Homo sapiens: one gene and its partner. The protein of the gene in region 1 interacts with the protein of each later gene in a pairwise test. Each region holds a gene or a part of one and is shown on either strand. Other genes may lie near its edges. The genes, in order: SLC30A6 and SLC30A5.

The links.
Region 2: the proteins of SLC30A6 (region 1) and SLC30A5 interact in binary tests that used the Homo sapiens proteins (3 or more experiments, as listed by UniProt).

Annotation. Positions count from the first base shown.
Region 1 is NC_000002.12:32,189,695-32,193,612, forward strand, and holds part of SLC30A6 (zinc transporter 6), read left to right. Parts: intron 1-2,641; coding exon 2,642-2,722; intron 2,723-3,223; coding exon 3,224-3,259; intron 3,260-3,918. UniProt on the Homo sapiens protein: Has probably no intrinsic transporter activity but together with SLC30A5 forms a functional zinc ion:proton antiporter heterodimer, mediating zinc entry into the lumen of organelles along the secretory pathway.
Region 2 is NC_000005.10:69,092,028-69,095,945, forward strand, and holds the start of SLC30A5 (proton-coupled zinc antiporter SLC30A5), read left to right. Parts: upstream 1-1,986; 5' UTR 1,987-2,228; coding exon 2,229-2,311; intron 2,312-3,918. UniProt on the Homo sapiens protein: Together with SLC30A6 forms a functional proton-coupled zinc ion antiporter mediating zinc entry into the lumen of organelles along the secretory pathway.

The DNA of each region.
Region 1 (3,918 bases):
AACACCTGGGCTCAAGTGGCTCTCCTGCCTCAGCCTCCTGAGTTGCTAGGACTACAGGCACATCCCACCATGCCTGGCTAATTTTTAAAATATTTTTGGAGTCAGGGGTCTCACCATATTGCCCAGGCTGGTTTGAACTGGTTTCAAGCGATCCTCCCACACCCCGAGTAGCTGAAATTACAGGTGTGGAGCCACCGTGCCCAGCTGTTATTGTCTTTTTTCATAAAGGCCATTCTATGGTATGCAGTGGTATTTCATTGTGGTTTTAAGTTATTTTCCTTATGACTAATTGAGCACCTTTGCCTATGTTGATTAACCATTCAGATCACCTCTTTTTTAAAATGCTTGTAAAAATCTTTTAACCATTTCCTGTTTTTCTGTATTAATCTGTAACAGTTCTTTATATATAAGTATCTTCTCCTTCTTAGTTGCCCTTCTTTCTCTTAATGGTATCTTCTGATGAATAAAAGTTTTAAATTTTAGGCCGGGCGCGGTGGCTCACGCATGTAATCCTAGCACTTTGGGAGGGTGAGGTGGGCAGATCATTTGAGGTCAGGAGTTGGAAACCAGCCTGACCAACATGGTGAAACCCCATCTCTACTAAAAATACTAAAATTAGCCACACATGGTGGTGGGTGCCTGTAATCCCAGCTACTTGGGAGGCTGAGGCAGGAGAATCACTTGAGCCCAGGAAGCAGAGGTTGCAGTGAGCCAATATCGTGTCATTGCTCTCCAGCCTGGGCGACAGAGTGAGACTCCGTCTCAAAAAAAAAAAAAAAAGTTTTAAATTAAATTTATTTTTTTGGGTTGGTCCTTTTGTGTACTTGTTAAGAAATCTTGGCATACCCCCAGGTCAGAAAGACACTTTGTTCTGTTATCACCTAGAAGCCTTACTGTTTGATTTTTCATATTTAATCCTACAATCCAGTTGGAATAGATTTTTTTGGTATGGTGTGAAGCAGGAGTAAAGGCATATTCTGGACTGCAGTGGCGCAATTCGGCTCACTTCAACCTCCATCTCCCAGGTTCAAGCAATTCTCGTGCCTCAGCCTCCCAGGCAGCTGGGATTACAGGCCCGCACCACCACGCCCAGCTAATTTTTTGTATTTTTAGTAGAGACTGGGTTTCGCCATGTTAGCCAGGCTGGTCTTGAACTGGCCTCAAGTGATGTGCCTGCCTCGGCCTCACAAAGTGCTGGGATTGCATGTGTGAGTCACCGCGCCTGGCTCTTTACTGCTTTTATGTGCCACATTTTTCACAAATCAGTGGACTATATATGTGTAGGTCTGTTTCTAGATTCTCTTTTCTGTACAATTTGGTGTATTTGTACTTGGATTAGTACTGCACTATGTCAATTATTGCAGCTTTGAAATACCTATTGATATCTGGTAGTATAAATCTTCCAGCTTCGTTCTTCTTCAAGGTTATCTTTGCCTTCCTTCACATTTTGCAGTTCCATATGCATTTTAATATCAGCTTCTCACCTTCCACAAATAACATTGGTGCATTTGCATACTGTTTTTTCCTGTTCTTTTTTATTTTTTCAGTAGCTGGAAAACAACACTTAATTTGTATTCTATCATAACCTACTTTTTTCACTCACCTTTTTCCATGTCAATAAATACTTTTTTTGTTTAACAATATATAATGTTCTATTGTTGATTCCAGCATTTTTCCTTTACAAATAACAATGTGATGTACAGTCTTAATTTTTTTGTCTTTTCTGTGCCTCCGTGATTATTTTCTTGAAAAATTTTAAGCATTTATACTTACCATAAATATTGAATACCATTAGACCATGTGTTGCAGGAAAAACTAAAACAACAGTTCCTGGCCTCTGGCTTATAGTCTAGGGATTATAAAATATATTCATAATTCACTGTAATTATGTATAGAAATGAGAGGCAGTATAATAAGTGGTTAAAATCTGAATTCTAGTGTCAGAGTGTTTGAGTTTGAAAACCTTCTACTTGCTATCTATATGACTCTAAACAGTTACTTTTCTTCTTCGTGTCCTAAACTTCTTATCTGTTTGGGAAAAAAAAATGAGCCAAGTGTGGTGGCACATGCCTGTAGTCCCATCTACTCGGGAGGCTGAGCAGCTGGGAGGATTACTTGAGCCTGGGAGTTCAGGGTCCAGCCTGGGCAACATAGTGAGACCCCCATCTCTTGAAAAAAAGAAAAAAGTGGATAAAGTAATTCTAATAAGGGGTTGGGAGGTTTAGATGAGGTAATATGTTAAGCACTCTGGTGTCTAACGCACAGTGGGTCAATTAAGTGTTATTATTATGATTGTGATTATTTCTAGAAAATAAGGACTATAATTGGGTCCTGGTAATTGTCTTTTTTTTTTTTTTAATCATTTTAAAGTTTTTCTGGAAAGAGAAAGCCTCTGACATGGGCTGAAGGTGCTCTCTCTTCTGAGTCCTAGGAATTGTACAAATAGGTACTCCTTGGAATCTGTGATTTTCATTGTTTATTATTATTCTAGAAACCCTAATCTGCTCTAACAGTGTTGGGCTCATAGTAGACAGCACATATGTATATTAAGTGAGCAAATAAATGAATGTAAATGTGTTCTAGAGAGACTGGTTTGTGAATTGAAAGAATTGTGATGATCTAATTAATGTTTTGGTTTCAGGTTTGAAAGATTAGAAGTCCTGGCTGTATTTGCCTCCACAGTCTTGGCACAGTTGGGAGCTCTCTTTATATTAAAAGAAAGGTACATTTGTATAGGATATTATTCTAAATCCCCCCATGACACCTTTGGGAACATGAAAGAAACCCGTCAGACACATTTGCTTTCAAGGGTATGAAAACTTAGATGAGCAGGGCTGGAGTTTTGATAGTACACTTTCTTTATGTTTCAGACTTTTTCTTCTGTTTCATTTTTTTTACTTCCTTCCTTAATGCTACTAAATTGAATCAGAAGTGGTTGTGAATGAAACAGAGATTCAGTCAGGCATGTTTGATGCTTATTACAAACCCATTGAAATAGGCTTGGCAGAGAAAGATAGACATTACATATTAAGGATAATTTGTGAAAAAAGAAAACAACTAAAAAGGATAATTTATGAGTCTCCTTGCCTCATCACTGCTAATAGTTAATAGTTATAATATTAAAAGATTTTGTGAACTTTAAGGTGGGTGAATGATATATTTAATAAAGCTTTTTAACTTTATAATTTATAGGACTTATTTAATATATTTTTATTTCTTATAGTGCAGAACGCTTTTTGGAACAGCCCGAGATACACACGTGAGATTTTATTTTCAATATATAATTTACTATTGATTCTTAATTATTAATTGATGTATTATTAAACAGTTGGCCAATGTCAGATTTCAGACTGTGGCAACATAACGTTTTTGCTGGTATTTCACAAACAAAATTCCCTAATACTAAGACTCCGTTTCTTTACTCTTAACAGTTCCCAAGTTCTAAATATTTTTATACTACACAGGAAGGCCTTTCTATCTTGGCTTCAGGCTTCTCATTATTTCCAGGCCTAGGAAACACTAACCCAGCTTCCCCTAGTCTTCTGTAATTTCAAATTTGACCTTCAAAATCTTTGCATAGCACCTGTAGAAAAGAGAATTGGACGAGGCTCAGGGATTCAGTGTAATCCCAGCACTTTGGGAGGCTAAGGCAGGAGGATCGCTTGAGTTCAGGAGTTCAAGACCAACCTGGACAACAGAGTGAGACCCTGTCTCCAAAAAAAAGAAACGTATATATGTTTCATATATATTGCAACTATGTGATTTTCATATATATATGAAAAGAGAATTGTATGTATCATATATATGAAAAAACAATTGTATTTCTCAACCACAGAGCTGCCAACTATATGGACCTTATCTATTCTGATCAGTTTAATTCCACAAAGTCTGACTTGTCCAGTATATCGTAAAACAAAT
Region 2 (3,918 bases), on another chromosome or scaffold:
AAAACAAGGGGGAGACTTACTCGGCTGCATTCCCAGGAGGTTGGGCATTCTTATTACTATTATTATTTTTTTTTTTTTGAGACGGAGTTTCACTCTTGTTGCCCAGGCTGGAGTGCAATGGCGCGATCTTGGCTCACTGCAACCTCCATCTCCGGGTTCAAGCCATTCTCCTCCTCAGCCTCCCGAGTAGCTGGGAGTACAGGCATGCACCACCCCACCCGACTAATTTTGTATTTTTAGTAGAGACAGGGTTTCGCCATGTTGGTCAGGCTGGTCTCAAACTCCTGACCTCAGGTGATCCACCCGCCTCAGCCTCCCAACTGCTGGGATTACAGGCATGAGCCACTGTGCCCTCTGCCTATGGAGTAGCCATTCTTTTATTCCTTTACTTTTTTAATAAACTTGCTTTCACTTTACTGTATGGACTTGCCTCGAATTCTTTCTTGCGTGAGATCCAAGCTCTCCTGGGGTCTGGATGGGGACCCCCTTTTCAGGTAACACTACCTGACCTGTTTTTACAGATGTGCCTGGATTACACAGTTTCACAGGCAGAATTTAAAGAAAATCAACGCTTTCCTTTTCAAAAAGGAGACAAAACAGTTTGCAGCAACACTTAACAAAATCCTCTTCCTTCTCCTATGTTCTGTCCTCACACAGTTGGATTCCAGGGCCTCTAGCAACAACGGTTACCAGTACTCCAGGCCCCACACAAAAAGCCACAAAAGCAGTCACCTTCCTCCGTTACTTTATTTGATAGATGACCCCAGGCTCCCTGTGGCAAAGAAGAATCCTTTCTTTTTCTTTCTTTTTTTTTTTTTTTCCAGAGACGGTCTTGCTCTGTTGCCCAGGCTGGAGCACAGTAGCATGATCATGCCTTATTGCAACCTTGACCTCCCACGTTCAAGCGATCCTTCCGCCTCTCCCTCCTGAGTGGCTGGGACCACAGGCATATGCCACGCCTGGCTAATTGTTTTTGTATTTTTGATAGAGACAGGGTTTTGCCATGTTGCCCAGGATAAGAATGTTTCTTTAGAAATCTGGAAATTGCCTTTAGGTTCCCTTAGGAGTAGGAGAGAAGGCCATGAAGTTTCGCACGTGGTCACTCCTAGAAAATTGCCCTGGGATAGTTTGCTGAGGAGGCAAATTTTGGTCAATACTAGTTTCTCCTCTCCAAAGTCCATCAAAGGCATTGTTCAAAAGAAATGGCCGTACCACTATTTGTAATTGATTCTCTACAGCTTCAAAAATAGTTATCTCTGGTTGGGGGAAGGGCACGTGAACTTTTAAGACTTCGGGCCTTCTCATCACAAAAATGATCCATACTCACAAAAACTTAGAGGCAGAGGGTATGTTAACCTAGATTAAGAATCTCTAGGCCGAGTGCGGTGGCTCACTCCTGTAATCGCAGCACTTTGGGAGGCCGAGGTGGGTGGATCACCTGAGGTCAGGAGTTCGAGACCAGCCTGACCAACATGGAGAAACCCCGTCTCTACTAAAAATACAAAATTAGCCAGGTGTGGTGGCACATGCCTGTAATCCCAGCTACTTGGGAGACTGAGGCAGGAGAATCGCTTGAACCTGGGAGGTGGAAGTTGCCGTGAGCCGAGATCGCGCCATTGCACTCCAGCCTGGGCAACAGGAGCGAAACTCCATCTCAAAACAAAAAAAAAAAGAATCCCTAACGCAGAGGAAAAGATTGGTGAGCTTTGTTTAATCACACACGCTGTACATTTTCCACGCCCTCCCCCTCTGCCCTACAGGAATCCGCTGTACTTCTGACGGCCCATAGGTGGCACTGTAGGGACAGGTAAGTGCACAGGGAGCGCCACCCGGAGAGGCTGATAGGAGGCGGAGCTTCAATGCGACACAACGTGGCGGGAGGAGCCTAAGGGACGAGGAAAGGCGAGTGTTCTGCTTGCGCAGACGCAAGGCTGGGCACTCCCCCGGGAGTGAGGGTTGCTGGGCCTGATGACGTGGCTTGGCAACGTCCCTACCGCCGCTGCTTCCCGGGAACCTGGCGCCGCCGGAACTGATCGCGGCCTAGTCCCGACGCGTGTGTGCTAGTGAGCCGGAGCCGGCGACGGCGGCAGTGGCGGCCCGGCCTGCAGGAGCCCGACGGGGTCTCTGCCATGGGGGAGTGACGCGCCTGCACCCGCTGTTCCGCGGCAGCGGCGAGACATGAGGAGACCCCGCGACAGGGGCAGCGGCGGCGGCTCGTGAGCCCCGGGATGGAGGAGAAATACGGCGGGGACGTGCTGGCCGGCCCCGGCGGCGGCGGCGGCCTTGGGCCGGTGGACGTACCCAGCGCTCGGTAAGGGACCGATCCGGAAGGCAGCGACCGGCCGGGTCGCTCAGGATGCACTTTCTCCGGCCTCCCTCCGGTCTCCGCTGACAGCCCGGGACGTCCCGGGGTCGGCGCGCCCTCTCCCCCTGCCTGCCTCCCTGCGCGCAGGCTGCCTCCGGGCTCCCCGGGCTCTTCGGGTGCCTGCTGCAGAAGGAAGGCGCTAAAGCCAAAAAGCTTCTGCTTGAATTTCTGGGTTACAAGGCAGACAGTCAGTCTTAGAACTGCCCGCCAGTTCACGTGAGAGGTTTTTCTGATCTGTGAGAAGCCTTTCTCTTGGCTGTTTCTCCCTGAAATAGTCTGGCGACTACTTAACCTTTCTGACGTTTCCCTGCATAAATTAGGGGAAGGTGTCACCATCAGCTCTCTTCAGGCGACGAAACCAAAGTACATACGTGAACTTGGATGTTCAGGGGAACTTGGATGTTCAGATTAACTGAGCACATCGAGGGTCCAGCCCCGTTTTCTTTTTTTATTTTGTTCTTAAATAAGAAATGTGTCCTCGTTGTCAAAAAAAAATCTAAACAGCAAAGCAATTCATAGAGTAAAAAGTGAAAATTCCCACTTCCTCTCTTCAATTCTCCCACCAACCCGAAAAGTAAGGGACCAACAGGTGCAGCGACCACTTTCTAGTGTATCCTTCCTAAGTTCTGAGATAGTGTCGAAAATGCACAAAATACAGCCCTGCAATTTGGCTGGAACTGGTGTTCTTTGCCTCCATTTTTAACGAGTTCTTCCCATTCTGGAATAAATACTTCTTTGATATTTAAAGAAAGTGATAAATGTGATAAATTCTTTAGAACTGTAGTAATAGCATTATAACGTAACTTTTTTTTTTTTTTTTTTTTTTGAGACGGAGTTTCGCTCTTGTTCCCAGGCTGGAGTGCAATGGCGCGATCTCGGCTCACGACAACCTCCGCTTCCCGGGTTCAAAAGATTCTCCTGCCTCAGCCTCCCGAGGAGCTGGGATTATAGACATACTCCACCACGCCTGGCTAATGTTTTGTATTTTTAGTAGAGACGAGGTTTCTCCATGTTGGTGTGGCTGGTCTTGAGCTCCCGACCTCGTGATCGGCCTGCCTCGGTCTTCCAAAGTGCCGGGATTACAGGCATGAGCCACCGCGCCCGCCCAACATAAGCATTTGTTATGAAAAGGGAAGAACACCACATAGGACAGAACTTAAACCAACTGCATTTTTGTAGCATAAATTTAATTTTCTAATCTATTTTGAGCATCTCATTTTGTAAATAACAGCATATCAGATGTTAATTCTTGAGACATGACAACTAAATGCAATAGGCAATTCTGGTCTGATTTGGTAGTAGGGGAAAAGTGCTTTAAAGGATGTTACTGGGTCAATTGACAAAACTGGACTATGGACAGTAGATTAAATAAAAGTTTCATATCAGGCCGGTCGCAGTGGCTCACACCTGTAATCCCAACACTTTGGGAGGCCAAGGCAGGTGGATCATCTGAGGTCAGGGGTTCGAGACCAGCCTGGCCAACATGGTGAGACCCCATCTCTACTAAAAATACCAAAAAAAAAAAAAAAATTAGTTGGACGTGGTATGCGCCT